Linked DNA regions of Homo sapiens. The protein of the gene in region 1 interacts with the protein of each later gene in a biochemical or structural test. Each region holds a gene or a part of one and is shown in the gene's direction. Other genes may lie near its edges. The genes, in order: KIR3DL3 and TAFA2.

The links.
Region 2: the proteins of KIR3DL3 (region 1) and TAFA2 form a complex in vitro, tested with the Homo sapiens proteins (one study listed by BioGRID).

Annotation. Positions count from the first base shown.
Region 1 is NC_000019.10:54,717,544-54,729,758, forward strand, and holds the start of KIR3DL3 (killer cell immunoglobulin-like receptor 3DL3 precursor), read left to right. Parts: upstream 1-6,898; 5' UTR 6,899-6,953; coding exon 6,954-6,987; intron 6,988-7,703; coding exon 7,704-7,739; intron 7,740-8,509; coding exon 8,510-8,794; intron 8,795-10,067; coding exon 10,068-10,367; intron 10,368-11,949; coding exon 11,950-12,215.
Region 2 is NC_000012.12:61,748,774-61,755,773, reverse strand, and holds part of TAFA2 (chemokine-like protein TAFA-2 precursor), read left to right. Parts: intron 1-749; coding exon 750-902; intron 903-2,027; coding exon 2,028-2,152; intron 2,153-7,000. UniProt on the Homo sapiens protein: Has a role as neurotrophic factor involved in neuronal survival and neurobiological functions.

The DNA of each region.
Region 1 (12,215 bases):
CCTCATAGACATCTACAGAGTACTCCACCCAACAACTGCAGAATATAGATTCTTCTTATCTGCACACACAAAAAACATATCATATTCTAAGACTGGCCACAAAGCAAGTCTCAATAAATTCAAAGAATCAAAATCATAACAAGGCACACAATAAAAATAGAAAAAAATACCAAGATGATCTCTCAAAACTACAGAAAAACATGGAAATTTAACAACTTGTTTCTGAATGAATATTAAGAGCCATCTATGACAAATCCACAGCCAACATCATATTGAATGGTCAAAAGCTGGAACTGTACCCCTTGAGAACTCTTGGGTGAACAATGAAATTAAAGCAGAAATCACAAAACATTATTTAAAATTAATAAAAATAGAAACAAACTTACCAAAACCTTTGGGATGCAGTTAAAGCAGTGATAAGAGGAAAATTTATAGCAATACATGCCTCATCAGAAGTTTAGAAAGATCTCAAATTAGTGACTTAACACTGCATCTAGAGGAACTATTAAAAAAAAGGAACAGTCCAAACCCAAGGCCAGCAAAAGATGAGAAATAACTAAAGTCAGAGAGAACTGAATAAATTGAGACCAAAAAGTCCATACAAGAGATAAATAAAACCAAGAGTTTTTCTTTGAAAAAAAATAAACAAAATTCATAGACTGTTAGCTAGATTAACAAAGAAAAAGAGAAAAGATCCAAATAAACACAAATAGAACTGACAAAACAATGTTACGAACAATCCCACAGAAATAGAAAAGATCGTCAAAGACTATTATGAACACCTCTATACAAACAAGCTAGAAAACCTAGAAGAAATGGATAAATTCCTGGTAACACAAAATTTATCATATTTCAACCAGGAAGAAAGTGAAAACCTGAACAGACCAATAACAAGTTCAGAAATTTAATCAGTAATAAAAACCCTACTAACTAAAAATAGCCCAGGACCAGATGGATTCACAGCCAAAATCCAACAGCCATACAAAGAAGAACTGATACCGATCTTACTGAAACTTTTGGAAAAAATCAAGGAGTGGGGGCTTCTTCCTAACTCATTCTATGAAGCCATCATCACCATGATACCAACATCTGTCAGAGACATAATGAAAAAAAGAAAACTACAACTAAATATCCTTAATGAACATAGACATAAAATCCTCAACAAAATGCTAGCAAATTGAATCTGTCAGTGCATCAAAAGTTAATTCACATGATCAAGTAAGCTTTATTTTTGGGATGCAAGGTTGGTTCAACCTACAAAGTCAACGAATGTGATTCACCTCATAAACATAATTAAAAACAAAAACTATATGATCATCTCAATAGATGCAGAAAAAGCTTTCTGTAAAATCCAACATCCCTTCATGATAAAAACTGTCAATAGGCATCAAAGGAACATACCTCAAAATATTAAGAGCCATCTATGACAAACCCACAGCCAACATCATATTGATGGGCAAAAGCTGGAACCATACCCCTTGAGAACCGAAACAAGACCAGGATGACCACTCCCGCCATTTTAATTCAACATGGTACTGGAAGTCCTAGCCAAAGCAATCAGGCAAGAGAAGGAAATAAAAGGCATTAAAATTGGAAAAGAAGTAGTGATACTGTCTCTCTTTGCTGATGAAATAATTTTATACATAGAAAACCCTAAAGACTCTGTCAGAAGGCTCCTGAAACTGATAAACAAATTCAATAAAGTTTCGGGATTAAAAAAATGTACACAAATTAGTAACATTTCTATGCACCACTAACATTCTAGCTGAGAACTAAATCAAGAACACAATTCCATTTACACTAGCCACAAAGAAAATAAAATACCTAGGAATCCATCTAACCAAGAAGGTGAAAATTCTCTACAAGGAGAACTACAAAACACTTCTGAAAGAAATAAGAAATGATACAAACAAATGGAAGAATATTCCATGCTCATGAATTAGGAGAACAAATAGTTAAAATCGCCATACTTCCAAAAACAAATTGCAGACTCAATGCTATCCATTTCAAAATGCAATGTCATTTTTCACGAAATTATAAAAATTTATTCTAAAATGTATTTGGCACCAAAAAAAGAGCCTGAATACACATAGGAATCCTAAGCACAAAGAACAAAGCCCAGGCATCACATTACCCAACTTCAAACTATACTACAATGCTATAGTAACCCAAACAGCATGATACTACTACAAAAACAGACACATAGACCAATGAGACAGAATAGAGAACCCAGAAATGAGGCTACATACCTACAATCATCTTTGAAAAAATTGACAAAAACAAGCAATGTGGAAAGTACCCTTTCTTCAATAAATAGTTCTGGGATAACTGACTACTCATATGCAAAATAATAGAACTGGACCCCTAACTCTCACTATATACAAAAATTAACCCAAGATAGTTTAAAGATTTAAATGTAAAACCTCAAAATATTAAAATTCTAGAAGAAAACCTAGGAAATATCCTTCTCAAGATAGACTTTGGCAAAGAATTTATGGCTAACTCCCCAAAACCAATTGTGACAAAGACAGAAATTGGGACCTAACTCAACTGAAGAGCTTCTGCACAGCAAACGAAAGTATCAACAGAGTAAACAGATAACCTACAGACTGGGAGAAAATATTTGCAAACTATGCATCTGACAAAGTTCTAATATCCAGAATCTATAAGGAATGTAAACAAATCAACAAGCAGAAAACCAAAAAACCTCAATTAAGTATGACATGAACAGACACTTCTCAAAAGAAGATGTACACATGGCCAAAAAACATATGAACAAATGCTTATTATCAGTAATCATCAGAGAAATGCAAATTAAAACCACAGTGAGATACCATCTCACAACAATCAGAGAAGCAGAAGCAATTACTAAAAAGTTTTTTGTTTTTTTTAATAACAGATGCTGACAAGATTGTGGAGAAAAGGGAACACTTATACACTCTTGGTGGGAATGTTAACTAGTTCAGCCAATGTGATAAGCAGTTTGGAGACTTCTCAAATAACTTAAAATAGAACTACTATTCAATCAAGCAATCCCACTACTGGGTATATACCAAAAGGAAGGTAATTAACTATGTCAAAAAGACACATGCACTAGTATATTCATTGCTGTGCAATTCAGAATAGCAAAGATTTGCAGTCAACCTAAGTGCTCACCAACAGTGGATTAGTTAAAGAAAATGTGCTACATATACACATGGAACATTACATGGCCATAAAAAATAATGAAATCATGTCCTTTGCAGCAACATGAATGTAGCAGGAGGTCAATCTCCTAAGTGAACTAACCCAGGAACAGAAAACCAAATACCACATGTTATCACTTATAACTGAGAACCAAACATTGAATACACATGAACATAAAGATGGAAACAACAGATACCGAGGACTACAGATGGGGGGAGGAGTAGGGAGGTATAGGCTGAAGAAACACCTGTTGGATTCTATGCTCATTGCCTGGGTGATGGCATTGTTGGAACCACAAACCTCAGAGTCACACAATATGCCTATGTAACAAACCTGCATGCATACCTTTAATCTACAGTAAAGGTTGAAGTTATTTAAAAATAGGAAGAAGAATTACCCTATACCTAAAGCTAAGATTTTTCCCTTTGAATATTCGTTTCTTCATCACTGTAGATAAGCAGGGAAAGAAAAATTATTATACTATACTAGCCTTTTATGTGACCATGAGGATTTGGGGTAGGTAGGTGGACAGCTTAGATAATTCACCAGGATATTGATACAGGCTCCATGGCTGGAAATAACCAAGGATGAGTGCTGTGTTTTGAGTGGTCTCCCCCAGAAACGTTTGTTGAAATCCTAACCCCTGGTATGTATGAATGTGAATTCATATTATATAAAAAGGAATAAATAGCCTGAGCACAGTGGCTCACACCTGTAATCCCAGCACTTTGGGAGGCCAAAGCAGGTGGATCATTTGAGGTCAGGAGTTCTGGCCAATATGGCAAAACTTCATCTCTACAAAAAAAAAATACAAAAAAAAAAATTGGCTGGGTATGGTGGCGCATGCCTGTAGTCCCAGCTACTCAGGAGGCTGAGGCAGGAATTGCTGAAACCTGGAAGGCAGAGGTTGCAGTGAGCCAAGATCATGCCACTGCACTCCAGCCTGGGTGAGACGGCAAGATATTCTGTCAAAAATAAATAAATAAAAAACAGAAGAAGAAATACAAGAATGACAGCAAACTTTGTATTCAAAACTATGAAAGTAAGAAATAGGTGGACCAACATTTTTAAAGTGCTACAAGAAAATATTTCAAACTAGAATCTTTCAACCTGAAAAGGAAAACATTTTCCTGCAATAAAGGTGCCATTAAAAATGTCTCACAATTTATTACATGAAGCATTGTTCTACAATAAATGTTAAGCTCTTGAAGCAAAGATTAATGATACCATTTAGTAACTTGAAATTCAAAAAAGTGGAAGTATCCCAAGAGGCAAATACGTGTGCAATTATTAAATGTTTCATATCAACACCCAACCTTATGCTGTCTACATAAGCTGCACTTCAAATACTAATCCACAAGATGTAAATATTGAAAGAATGACATTACATTGTCATGATAATGCCCAGTGCAAAATATGCTTCTAGTCAGTTGTATACATAGAATAGGTAAATGTTTGTAATAAAAAGTATTCCTCAATAGAAGTTTCTTAACTCAAAGAATGAAATATTTCACCATGCACATACAAAGAAGAGATATATGGAGATATGAAGAGGAGTACTTCATAATGACAAAGAGGCAAATTCATAAATAAGACATAATAATCCTAAATGCCTACACACCTAAAGCTGGAACCTCAAAACACATTAAATTAAAGGCATAATTCAAAACATAATCAATCACATCCAAATTGCAGCTAGAGATAGCAACATTCACCTCACTTCCAGAACAAGTACACAGAAAATTATTAAGCATATGAAAGACTTGAAAAACATTTGTGTAGGCGGCGGGTGCATAAGGTTGGGTGTTGATATGAAACATTTAATAATTTCAATAATCCTAGCACTTTGGGAGGCCAAAATGGGAGGATCACTTGAGGCCAGGAGTTTGAGACCAGCCTGGGCACCATAGTGAGACCCCGTCTCTATTTTTTTTAAATAAAGAAAAACATTTGAATGATTTTTTTCTTAACTGACATTTAGAAAACATCCACCTCAAATCTTCCTAATCCACAAACTTGTCTAGCACCCCTGGAACATTCACCAAAATAAATTTTTAAATGCTGAATCATAGGTAATATGATAGATGAAACAGTTGAATTAAATTATAAATGTACAACAAGGAAATGCTGGGGAAATTATCAAATATTTTAAAATTAATAAACACACATAGCAATAAACAATGAGTGGAAGAAAAACATTTCAAAGAAAGGTGGAAAATATTTTGTATCAATTAAAAATGAAAACACATCTCGGCAAATGACTGGGGATACAGATAGAACAGTGTTAAAGGAAAATAAGCCTCAAATGTCTGTGTTAGAAAAGAAGGAAGAGCTGAGTAAATAGGTAACTTTCGCTTGCAGAAATACTACACATCAGCAAATTAATTCCAAAGTAACGTCGAGGAAAAACATAAAATGGCAAGCAAATATATACGTGCATATGTACGTATATTCATAAATGACAAACAGGACAGAAAAATCAGTGACATCAATTTTGTTCCTTAGAAGAAACAGGAAAATTGACCCCAAAAAACTTTCCAGGCCACATTTGGTCATGATGGAAATATTTTGGCACTTCCTGGTTAAGCTCAACACCAACTTGCACCCAAAACCAATAATTTCATTCCTAGGTAAATATGTCTAATTAATTCAGCATATGTATGCAAGGGATCACACAGAAACACGATTATCAAGGCCCGAGTTATAAAAGAGAAAATCCGGAAACAACACAAATGTCCATGATAAAAAGAGTGGATAATTACATGTTGATAAAGTTATGTATGGACTATTAAACTGCAATCCAAAAGAATAAAATAGAACTATAAAATTCAATATGTATATGGTGTCATAGAAACACAAATGTGAGAAAAAGAAAGAAAAATACAAAATTTATATTTTTTAAAATTTGAAACAACTATATATGTGAGTGCTTAGGGTGTGTGTGTGTGTGTGTGTGTATAACCATATGTATATAAACGCACACATACGCACACATATAGAATGTCCCGGCCAGGCATGGTGGCTCACACCTGTAATCTCAGCACTTTGGGAGGCTGAAGTAGACAGATCACTTGAGGTTAGGAGTTCAAGACCAGCCTGGCCAACATGGAGAAACCTCCTCTCTACTAAAAGTACAAAAATTAGGTGGGCGTGATGGTGGGTGCCTGTAAATCCAGCTACTTAGGAGGCTGAGGCACGAGAATTGCGTGAACCTGGGAGGTGGAGGCTGCAATGAGCCGAGGTCTCACCACTGCATTCCAAACTGGGTGACGAAGTGAGATTGCGTCTCAAAAAAAAAAAAAGTTCTAAAAGTTGTGACTTGGGTGTGGCAGATTGTGACATACTGCCAGCTGCTAGAAATGCTGGGGCAGGAGGATTGCTTGAACTCTGAAGTCAAAGAACAGCCTGGGGAAAATAGCACATGAAGAAGAGTTTGAATCTCAGATAAAAACAACAAAAATACATCAAAAGTCTTTAATGTAAGCCAAGCATTCAGTCATCTCCTGTATGAGAGATTGGATCTGAGACGTGTTTTGAGTTGGTTATAGTGAAGGATGCAAGGTGTCAATTCTAGTTGGAACAATTTCCAGGAAGCCATGTTCCGCTCTTGACCAAACAGCCACTGGGCCTCATGCAAGGTAGAAATAGCCTGCATACGTCATCCTCCCATGATGTGGTCAGCATGTAAACTGCATGAGCCCCTCACAACATCCTGTGTGCTGCTGAACTGAGCTGGGGCGCAGCCGCCTGTCTGCACCGGCAGCACCATGTCGCTCATGGTCGTCAGCATGGCGTGTGTTGGTGAGTCCTGGAAGGGAATCGAGGGAGGGAGCGCTGGGGTGGAGATCTGGGCCTGGAGTGGAGATCTGGGCCTGGAGTGGAGATATGGGCCTGGAGTGGAGATATAGGCCTGGAGTGGAGATATGGGCCTGGGGTGGAGATATGGGCCTGGAGTGGAGATATGGGCCTGGAACTGTAGATATGGGCCTGAAGTAGAGATATGGGCCTGGAGTAGAGATATGGGCCTGGAACTGTAGATATGGGCCTGGAGTGGAGATATTGGCTTGGAGTGCAGATATGGACCTGGAATTGAGATACGGGCCTGGAGGTGGAGATATGGGCCTAGAGTGGAGATATGGGCCTGGAGGTGGAGATATGGGCCTGGAACTGTAGATATGGGCCTGGAGTAGAGATACGGGCCTGGAGTGGAGATGTTGGCTTGGAGTGCAGATATGGGCCTGGAATGGAGACACGGGCCTGGAGGTGGAGATACAGGCCTGGAGGTGGAGATATGGGCCTGGAGTGTAGATATGGGCCTGGAGTAGAGATATAGGACGGAGGTGGAGATATAGGCCTGGAGTGGAGATATGGGCCTGGAGTAGAGATATAGGACGGAGGTGGAGATATAGGCCTGGAGTGGAGATATGGGCCTAGAGGTGGAGATATGGGCCTGGAGTGGAGATATGGGCCTGGAGGTGATGTACAGATGGATCATCCATCATGATCTTTCTTTCCAGGGTTCTTCTTGCTGGAGGGGCCCTGGCCACATGTGGGTGAGTCCTTCCCCCAAACCTTAGGTTGTCATCTCCCCACATAAGATGATGCTCCTGAAACGGGAGGCAGGCGACACAGGGGGTTGACTGATGGGCTGACCATGGGAAGCCATGTGGGAATCTCTCATGAACTAGGAAAAGGAAGCCAGGGGAAGCTTCGCCACAGTTCTGTCCTAGCCCTCCCCGGCCTTTCTTTCCCTTGGCTGAGTCTGTGGGGACCCAGGGGGAGACTGAAGTGCTCAAAGGAGTGGTGTGCAGGGAGGAAGTGGTGTCACCGGCAGAGGAAGGGAGAGAAGCAGTGCAAGGAACAACAGGCCTCTGAGGACAAGAGCATAACTCACACCCTCCAGCGTTTCCATGACGGTAGGGGCTGCAATGTGGCTGCTGTCATTCTACCTAAGAGGTGGGGGAACCACAGTCATGACCCTGACATTCCAGATCTTCTAATAGGGGCTCAGTTGTTTATTATGGTTCATGCATTAGCTGATCATGCCCTCCATCCTGTGTCTACCTTGTGTTCTTTTATGTAAGTAATTTTGCAGTGTTAAAATCTAGTAAGAGTCGCTTCTTCAGCACCTGCTCAAAGTTCTCAGCTGACACTTGCTGTAGGGAGACGCCATGTCTATGCGGGATGGGTCCTTCCTGTAGCCCTGGGCACCCAGGTGTGGTAGGAGCCTTAGAAACGTGGAAATGGGAGAATCTTCTGAGCACAGGGAGGGAGGGGCGGCTCCACATCCTCCTCTCTAAGGTGGTGCCTCCTTCTCCCCCAGGTGGTCAGGACAAGCCCTTCCTCTCTGCCTGGCCCGGCACTGTGGTGTCTGAAGGACAACATGTGACTCTTCAGTGTCGCTCTCGTCTTGGGTTTAATGAATTCAGTCTGTCCAAAGAAGACGGGATGCCTGTCCCTGAGCTCTACAACAGAATATTCCGGAACAGCTTTCTCATGGGCCCTGTGACCCCAGCACATGCAGGGACCTACAGATGTTGCAGTTCACACCCACACTCCCCCACTGGGTGGTCGGCACCCAGCAACCCTGTGGTGATCATGGTCACAGGTCAGAGGCTTTCTGTCTGGGCTTCTCACTGTCCCACCTCCTGAATCCCAGAGCTTCTGGTGGGGGCGTCCATCAGGGTCCAATCATCCAGGCCCCGACTGTATTTGGGGTAAAGGGGGATTCAGTACAGAGAAATAGTTGCTGTGGTGGGAAGAATAATTGTCCCCAGTGATGGCTACATGGTAATCCATGAACCCTGTGACTATTTATGTTATAGGGCAGGGGACTGAAGAGGAAGATGGAGCTCAGGTTGTTGATGAGTTGACCTTGCGATGGGGAGACAGCCTGGACTGTCCTGCTGTGCTCAGAGTAATCACAAGGGTCCTCATGAGAGGAGGAGGAAGAGGAAAGTGGGGTTAGAGCAACGTCGTGGGAGGGAGACTCCATCAGCCACAGCGGGCTTTGAAGATGGGGGAAGGCCATGAGCCACAAAGGCAGGTGGCCTCTAAGGGCTGGAGAAGTCAAGGGAACTGATTCTTCCCTGAGTCTCCAGAGGAAACACAGCCCTGCAGATGCCTTGATTTTAGCCCAGAGAGAACTGGGTCCGATTTCTGTTCTCCAGAAGTGGAAGAGGTCATTGTATTCTCTCCTGCCCCATGTTTGTGACAATTTTCTCCAGCAGCAACAGGAAACCAACACAGGAACCCAGGTGAAGCACAGGTTAAGAAACCAAACAAGGAGAAGGTTGGCTACACTGATTTTAGCATGGGTGGGATACTGATGCTACCACCAGGCTCGATCCACATAGGGAGGGGTTGATGCTCCTGGAACCAGCACCAGGGGCCACCCTATGGAAGCTGGGGCCATGGAGAAGGCACAGACATGAAAGGAGAGGCTCCCAATCCCCATCAGGAACAGGGACACTGATGCCTGCCTTACTGATGAGTTCGTACCTCCTGCCGGCCTTTCCAATCTGTCCAAAAGAGATTGATTCAGGCTGCTAAGAGCCTGGACATGCAGCCTGTCATGGTTCCTCTTCCACCCCCACATAAACACCAGGAAAGAGATTAGTGGGAAACAGATACAACAGCCTAAGAGGTGACACTGAGCACAGTGGGAAGGGAATCAGGGCTACTAGAGACAGAGAGACAGGGAAGAGGGAGGGAGACAGATGGAGGGACCTGCAACAGGGGTTATGGGCACAAAAGAACACGGAGACACAGACAGGAAGGAGAGAGATAGACACCATGGAGGGGAAGCCTCACTTATTTCAGGTCCCATGAATGGGATGAGAAAGGGAGACGCCTTCTGAACTCACAACCTCTCTTCTTAGGAGTCCACAGAAAACCTTCCCTCCTGGCCCACCCAGGTCCCCTGGTGAAATCAGGAGAGACGGTCATCCTGCAATGTTGGTCAGATGTCAGGTTTGAGCGCTTCCTTCTGCACAGAGAGGGGATCACTGAGGACCCCTTGCGCCTCGTTGGACAGCTCCACGATGCGGGTTCCCAGGTCAACTATTCCATGGGTCCCATGACACCTGCCCTTGCAGGGACCTACAGATGCTTTGGTTCTGTCACTCACTTACCCTATGAGTTGTCGGCTCCCAGTGACCCTCTGGACATCGTGGTCGTAGGTGAGAGAATACAGACCTGCCTCTCACCCTTGCTGGGAGATGGAGTGAATGATCTAGGACTGGAAGCCCCAGGTGGTCATGAGGAAGATGAGTGTGGGGTTCCTATGGAGAGAAAGTGACTTGGTGAGGTCTGTACCAACAAAGGCAGAGAAACAGGAGACACAAGTACAGACCTCATGTCATAACATAGAAGCCAGACACAGGGGCCATACAAGGTGTTAGAAAAAGAGATAAAGAGGTAAAGAAGACACAGAGAGACAGACATATCCCAGAGAGAGGTGTCCTTCTATGCTGACTTTGTTCAGAGACCAGGCACAGGTTAGAAGGTTCCATTCTGTTTTACCTCTACAAAGTGTTCTCTCCCAGGAGAACCCAAAGAGACACATCTATCTGGCCTGAGTTGGGCCATGTGGCCCCAGGCTGGTGGCACCTACAGATGTTGTGTTTATTCTTAAACCTCTGCCTTCCGTGCAGTGGAGCTGTCATCGTCCCAGGACACCATGGCCCCAGGTGAGGGAGCAGAACACCAACCCCTGTATGCTGTGAGTTCCTGGAGTCCCCATACTGGATTCTGAGGCTCATATTCAAATAGCACCACATGTTATAGGATTACTGAGAACAAAAGCCCACAGAGAGACACGGAGTGAAATCAGGGAAATCAAAAAGCAAAGACATGAACACACACACAGAATGAGCCAGAAGAAGGGAATTGAGAGACTCACAGACACATAAAGAGATAGAAAAAGAGGGCAGAGAAGTGGAGCGTATGATGGAAGGAAGCAGAGAAAAGCCCTAAAATCAGAGCCCTGAGGGAGGGGCACAAAGACAGGGAAAGATAAAGATGTGAGGATGGATTGCAGAGACTCCAAAAGGGAACTAGAGAGACTGAGAGGCAGAGAAAGACAAGGAGATGGAGAGAGACAGATGATAGATGGACAGATAGATATAGATAGATGAAAGATAAAAGGTAGATGATAGATAATAGAGAGACAGGTGATAGACAAATAGATGATGAATGACTGATAGATGATATAGATAGACAAGTAGAAAGACAGACAGATGATATATAAATAGATATAGAGAGATAGAAAGACAGATAAACACATGATGATAGATGGATAGATGCATACATACATACATTGATTGATAGATGATAGATAACAGAGAGATAGGTCATAGATACACAGATGATGATAGATGATAGATACATACATAGATAAATGATAGATCGATCAATAGATAATAGATAGAAATATGCAGAAAGTTATGAGCAAGACAGAAAGTGAGAGACTCAGAATTAAAGAAAGAGGAAGATCAAGTCAACCAGTCCAAGGAGGGTCAGAGAGAATAAAATGGTACAAAAAAAGAAAACATAGCTAGGGATGGAGAAGTGAGGTCAGAGACCTAGAGAGACAGAGAAGGTGGAAGGAGGAAATAGACATGAAGAGAGATGGGGGTGGAGGGTGAGAGAGAGAAAGAGAGCATTAAGTCATAGAGCAGGGGAGTGAGTTCTCAGCTCAGGTGTGAGGAGAGCTGTGACAAGGAAGAACCTCCCTGAGGAAACCACCTCTTCTTCTTCCAGGTCTATATGGGAAACCTTCTCTCTCAGCCCAGCCGGGCCCCACGGTTCAGGCAGGAGAGAATGTGACCTTGTCCTGCAGCTCCCGGAGCTTGTTTGACATTTACCATCTATCCAGGGAGGCGGAGGCCGGTGAACTTAGGCTCACTGCAGTGCTGAGGGTCAATGGAACATTCCAGGCCAACTTCCCTCTGGGCCCTGTGACCCACGGAGGGAACTACAGATGCTTCGGCTCTTTCCGTGCCCTGCCCCATGCGTGGTCAGACCCG
Region 2 (7,000 bases), on another chromosome or scaffold:
CACTTAGTGTCCTTATTCAAGGTTGACAAAATGAATATGGAAGCCTGACAGCTTATTGGACTGGGTTTACAGGCAATTGGCTGCCAGATACGAATTATCCAAGTTCATGGTACCATTTGGTGACAGTTGCCCTCTCAGGCAAAATTGAAAGGAATGACTCTGGCTTCTGGGACTGGTTGGATCTTCCAGAAAAATGGTGGCAATTTCAAGAATCACTGGATTTGTTCATTTTCAGGGAAACTGAGCAGAAGAATACTGAGCATGTGGGTGCCCACTGTCTGCCTCCACTTCCTGCCTAGTCCTCTTACTCTCCCCTAGAAGAACACAAGCTTTATCAGCAACCACCCACTTTGAGAATGGGGCTGGCCTCAGTCCCATTGCAGGGTACCTAGGCCAGAGGTTTATTTTACTTTGATTAATGCATTGAACAAAAAGGCATTAAAAAGTCATATGCAAATAAATGTTTTTGATGACGGCACATACTGCTTCTGTATCAGACTTTTAACAGCTTATTCTAATCTAGTCACTAATTGTTCCTGCTTTACCAAGCATTCACTGACAGAAATGTTCCTACCACATTTAGAAAAGAAATCAAATCTGCATTATGGAGTTAGCATCATTGTATTTCTCGTTTCATGCCTGGTGGACCCCTTATAGAGCTATATTTAATGTACTGCTAATTAAAAAGAAGGGTGGGGGGAAGTGTCCAAAGCTTTCTCAATGTTGTCTTATCTTTTTTGTTTGTGCAGCTCACCATGTTAAAACGGGAACTTGTGAGGTGGTGGCACTCCACAGATGCTGTAATAAGAACAAGATAGAAGAACGGTCACAAACAGTCAAGTGCTCCTGCTTCCCTGGGCAGGTGGCAGGCACCACGCGAGCTGCTCCATCATGTGTGGATGGTGTGACTTCTTCCATTCCTTATTGTAACAGCACAGCCAAGGATGGCTTAGAACTAGAACCCCACTATAATGCTCTCAATGGGAGGTCAATCCTGGGTGAACATACTACAAATACCATGATAAGTTGAAACTAGAATATTTGGGTGGCATTTTGAAATCTAAAATCCTCTGGAAAGAGGTCTAAAATATTATGCAGTTCTGTTACAAAAGGCATTATAATGAGGTTCCATTAAATTAATGTGCATCTTATTTTGATACCATGAAATGTTGATTTCTCGGTGGATGGTGGGAGGTGGATTATGTGTAAATTAATTGGAAAAGGAAAGATGAAAATGGATGATTTAATATTATGGGTTCTTAAACCCATGGATATTCTTAAGAATTAAAAAAAATAGCACCATGTATATGAGTGAACATTTAGTTGTGGATAGAATTAACATAAAATATCAACTTTTATGATGATGCAATAATATATTAATTTTTTTCCTTGAGGGTTCACCTAATTATAGTAGGACATAAATCTTTATATGCATTTATTTAGTTGATGTTACCATAAATAGTAATTTGTTAAGTGCTCATATTACTATAATATATTGCTTGTGATGAGGTTATAGCACACAGTTAAAAAAATTATGATAACTCTGATAAACACCCTCCTGATAACCATCTTATTCATGGGAATATTATATTGATTATAAAGTGTTGACTCTAAAAACTGGTCATAGGTCCATTTTCTTATATATTTATATAAATTGGTGCATATACACATTTGCATAGTTTATTTTCAATATCTTAGCTTTCATGAAGTCTATTTTCACATGAAAATCCTGTAATATTGTGTCTATAGTTAACTATACTGCATTCTACACTTACAATTTTATTAAGTGGATAGATCTCATGTTAAGTGTTCTCATTACAATAAAATAAAAAATGTTTTAAAGAAAATTATTTTAGTTAGAAAATCTTGAAAGGTTTTGTCCTTTTGAACAAAAAGAAAGGCATACCTCAAATACCTGTATTCCCACTGGTAGGAAAAATTAGTGGCTTTTGTTCCTCTTTAAAGGTGAACAAGAGAAATAAGTCCCAAGAAAAAAATGTTGAGTCAATTTTTTTTCTCTCTTATAGCTTCAATAGTGGAACAGAAATGGTGGTGCCATATGCAGCCATGTCTAGAGGGAGAAGAATGTAAAGTTCTTCCGGATCGGAAAGGATGGAGCTGTTCCTCTGGGAATAAAGTCAAAACAACTAGGGTAAGTGGACAGCAAGCTTGGGAAAACAGAATGTCTCTGAATTAATAGAGAACGGAGCTTGTGCAGTAACCAATTTAAGTGGCAATTGTGGAATGGAAGAGTATAGTTTTGCAAGATATGTTTTCCCCATTTTTTTCTTAGTTCGCTTTTTTCATAAAACATTTTTATTTCACTCAGAACAACATCTTCCATAGAGTACCATCAACTGTCATATTATCTGATCAATAAACACTGTTTGCTCCTTCATAAAATACTGAGGGTAATGTGAACCTCCTTTCCCCACTGAGGATGCATGTTAAATTCTGGGAGGGTGACCCCAATCCTTTATTTTTCTAATGTATAGTAATCTAAATAAATTCTGAAAACATTATTTTATATATTACTTTTAATACAGTTTTTTAACTGAGATTCTTTTAGTTTTATGAAAGTAATTATTTTGATCTCCCTGATATCTGAATCATTAAATAGTTTTCTAGTGGTTAAGATTTACAATTATTGTAATGGGCTACTAGGAAGAGTTTCAGATTCTCAAGATCAATACAAAAAGAATATTCTTAAGACACTGATGTATTTCAGCTTTGTAATTACTGACCTCTCGGTGATGGTAGAGAACTGAAAAATAGCTTTGTTCTTTGATTTCCTAATTTGCCACATGGGTATTCCAGACTGGCAGAATTTGAATTCTTTTCTTTATAGAATTAGCAAAGGAAGGTTTTGTTTTGTTTTGCTTTTAGGAAAAGCATACTATAAATTAGAGTTGAATATTTGAAGAATAGAACAGAGTAATGGTATAAATTGATGTTTTATAAAAAGTAACATAAAAGTAGAGACTGGCTAATTTACAATACTACTTGATATAGCAGACTTTTAAACCTTGTCCAGACATATACAAGAGGCTTATTTTATGATCTCATCTAGATATGTAATTTAGTCTGCCAAGTAATATATTTAATACATTGACTGATCAGACATACACAGAAGTGACTAAGTTTCAAATGGCATGAATAAAAACATATTTCATGAAATTTTTCTTGACTCTAACCTGTTAGCTAAGTGTCACACCTTTTCAAAACCCATTGGATGCATGATCAATTAGTTAGGATAATTATATTATTCAGTGAGCTAGCACATGATATAATCCGTATTAATTTGTTAAAAACATTCTGGCAATGTAAATTTTCCTTATAAGCTATTTATACCATGAAAATATTTTCCCTAGCACTATTAATTCTCAGTCCAAAAACAGGACTTAAGGAAATTCATTAACGTTTTGAGATTCTGAAACAAATTTTTAAAATTGTGAGCTCTTGACAACCAAATTCTTTGTTTTTATTACTTCAGTGAACAAGGGGAAGCTATTATTTATTGTATACTTAAAACATATGCCATACACTGAACAAAATGCTTTACATGAGTTAGCTCACTTAATCTTCCTAATAGCCCAGTGGAGAAGATAGTGTTATTATCTCCTTTTACAGATGAGTAAACCAAAACTTCCAAATGTTATGTAACTTCCCAAGGACATATAGCTAATTAATTAGGAAGCCAGGTTTCAAAACATGTAGTTCCATTCCAAAACCCAATCTTTTAACCTGTACTTTGTACTAATAATTTAACTTATTCTTAAGCAATAATGGTAAAAATATCGTATAGTTCTTTTCTTAAGAGGTCGACCTTTAAAAATATCTCTAACTTTCTGGATCATTGAAATGAAAAGGTCAAGACCATGCAGTCTAAATTCTCATGGAAAAAAAAAAATTTGGAAGTGCTGTTTTACTCCCTTTTGGCCTGTTGACCATATTCTCAATGACCCAAATTTAAAATGGAGTGTCTGCTTCACAAATTCTTCCAAATGTAATGAAACAAGGTGGATGAGAGACTGAGAACTCATGAGTAGGGAAAATCACATCTACATCCTATAATTTGTTTTAGTTATAAGACATTATCCTCTATATAGAGGATAGCACTTTCTATTTTTCTTTAATCTCTTTTGTCCCAAAGAATAGCTGGTAATGGAGGACCTTATTTAAGACATTATAGAGGGTTTTCATACAACAGTAGGTGTTTAGATTTAGTTTCTTTTAAGATACCCTCTATTTCTAAGAGTCTGTCACTCCCATTTTGAAAAGAAAAATCATCATATATAAGAGGAGAGAGAAAGACTTGAAAGAAGGAGCTTCTTGAGTACAACCAAAGTAAATTCTTATCCTTTTATTCTTTCACAAGAAAAATGCTGCTTGTGAAAATGGAGCTACTTAGACATTTTCAACCAAAGGAACACTATGGCATTCCAAATAGAAAGGCAAAAATGTGCAATTTAGTTTGGCCCACCAAACAATTTGGGCAAATTTCCCTGGTGCTACAAATGAAGCAAAAAGTTTTCAAGGTCATCAGGCTATTATTGCTCAGCCATCTCCACTGAAATAGTGAAAAGATTGGAGGCGATAAGAAAAATTCTTAAAATAGCTCTAGGCATGTGTTACTTTGCCCACAGTGGAAGTGTTGGATAGAGGAAATGTTGAATAGAGGCAGATAGAAGAAGTGTTTCCATCATGCATAAATAGCACTACTTTTGAAAACAAATTTGAGTCATTATTTTAATCATTGGTATTACTGTCCATATGTCTGTTTTCAATAATGTGGTTGTGATCACCATGAGCCAAAAAGCCATTGAACTCCTGATTTGGCAGGTCCCAGCCACAATTGGAAAGGCCAGAAGTTATGTAGGAATAGGTTACAAAATAACTCAAGAGCTGTCTCAGCCAAAAGCTATTTGCTTTGCTTATGCAAGATATGTTGGTCTTATGGGATTATCACTGCAAGCAAAATGGCTTGAGAAATAATTAAAATATGCAATAATGTACACTCTCCCTTATAATGGCCCATAGCCAATCTGGAGTGCTTGGGTAAGCCTGTTAAATAAATAGCAGTCAGCCAGAAATAGTAATAAGGCTTGCATGGCCTCAGCAGAGATGAGTGGCACCTTCCCGAATTGACTACAAATCAGGGTCTGAGTGATTTTTCCACTTAAGACTAATTTTGAGCCTATATTGTACTTACTACAAATGTGAATTATACTCTTCTTCTGTTTTTCTATCGGATTCTGGAATTTTTTTGGTTCTGACCCATTTCCTATTGGTGCTAACAGGGGGAAAAGGTAAAGAATAGACAGTCATTTTTGGAACTTGAGTGTTTTGTTGCATACCTGTTCTTCACACACCCAAGCATTTAATTTGGAAAGAGTGGAAGATGCAACAGTTGTTTCCCAAACCCCATTTCTCAGTCTAAAGGTGGAAAATTTATGACTTTCTGTGACATCTATAACCGTCTCTTTTATTACTTTTAAGATCTCCTAAGTTAAACAGAAGGAAAGGAAAAGTCATTCAAGCCTTTTGATTTCAAACTCACTTTCAAAGACAAATAAAGAACTTTTCAAAGGGTCATTAATAAAAGAATCATCTTTCCAGTGTGAAAGAGTGCATAATTATAAGCTAATTATACAACACAAAAGTAACAGGGGGGAAAGATGCTGCAGAGCTTGTAAAATATAAGAAAAGAAAATATTTAACATGGTTGAAATCATCGGAAAAAAACAGACTGTGATTCTGTGTGTGTGTGTGTGTGTGTGGGGTGTTTTGATATTCTTTCTTCGTGGAAGATCTAAAGGAAATAATATTCTGTTTTTAGGATTTATAGTCCTTGCCTAATGGTATGGACACCAAGCTACAAAATACAGTGGTCAGTGCAGTTTTTAATGTTGATTCTTACCTAAGGATCAGGTTAGAGAAACTTGGTCTCTTACCTAACTTCGTATTATATAAGACTTTACATTGTTTTTAGGAAGATTACCTTTATGAATCATATGTCCCAGGTCTATTGACTTTTCATATACTTAAGAAGAAATTTTCTGGCTAATTTTTAACTAATTGAAATCTTTCACTTTATGCATTTATTTAAAGTGGCTTGAGCAGATAAGAGCTCTGTAATTTTTAAATGTTCCTTCAAATATAAGTTGATTTTAAAGGTATGCATTATGATATTATTTTATTGTATAATGCAATGAAAATCAAAATATATTAAGAATTTCCTATGCAGCACATTTTATATTAATAGTACTCATATTAGAATTAAAACAACAAAAGCAAATACAGAAGCATTTACTTAGCTCTTACTGTGATCTGGGCACTCTGCTGAGTACATTGCAGGTATTATCTTATTCAATTTACCCAACCATAGTAGATACTAAAGAGAATGCATGGCTTGATCCAAGCCCACAAGGAGTATGCCATTGAATGGAGGAATGAGTAGTGTACAGTTATGTTATTCTTTTCTTTTTTTCTCCTTTTTTTGAGACAAAGTCTTACTCTGCTGCTCAGGCTGGAGTGCAGTGGCACAGTCTTAGCTCACTGCAACCTCCACCTCTTGAGTTCAAGCGATTCTCATGCCTTAGCCTCCCAAGTAGCTAGGATTACTGGCATGCCCCACCACACCCAGCTATTTTTTTTTTTTTTTATTTTTAGTAACAACGGGGTTTTGCTGTGCTGCCCAGGCTGGTCTCTGACTCCTGGCCTCAAGTGATCCGCCCACCTTGGACTCCCAAAGTGCTGAGATTACAGGTGTGAGCGACCACACCCAACCACATTATTCTTTCCTTTACCCATATGCAGTCTATTGACAACAAACACTGGAATCAGTGGTAAATATAAGTTAAGAGTAATATTGTAACAATAGAATAGCATAAGAATGAGGAAGTTGTGCTAGATTCAATTTCAAATTTCTCTAACCAAGGTTTATTCTTGGGTTCCATGTGACAAGAAGATTTCTAACTTCCTTTCCAGCTACATTTAA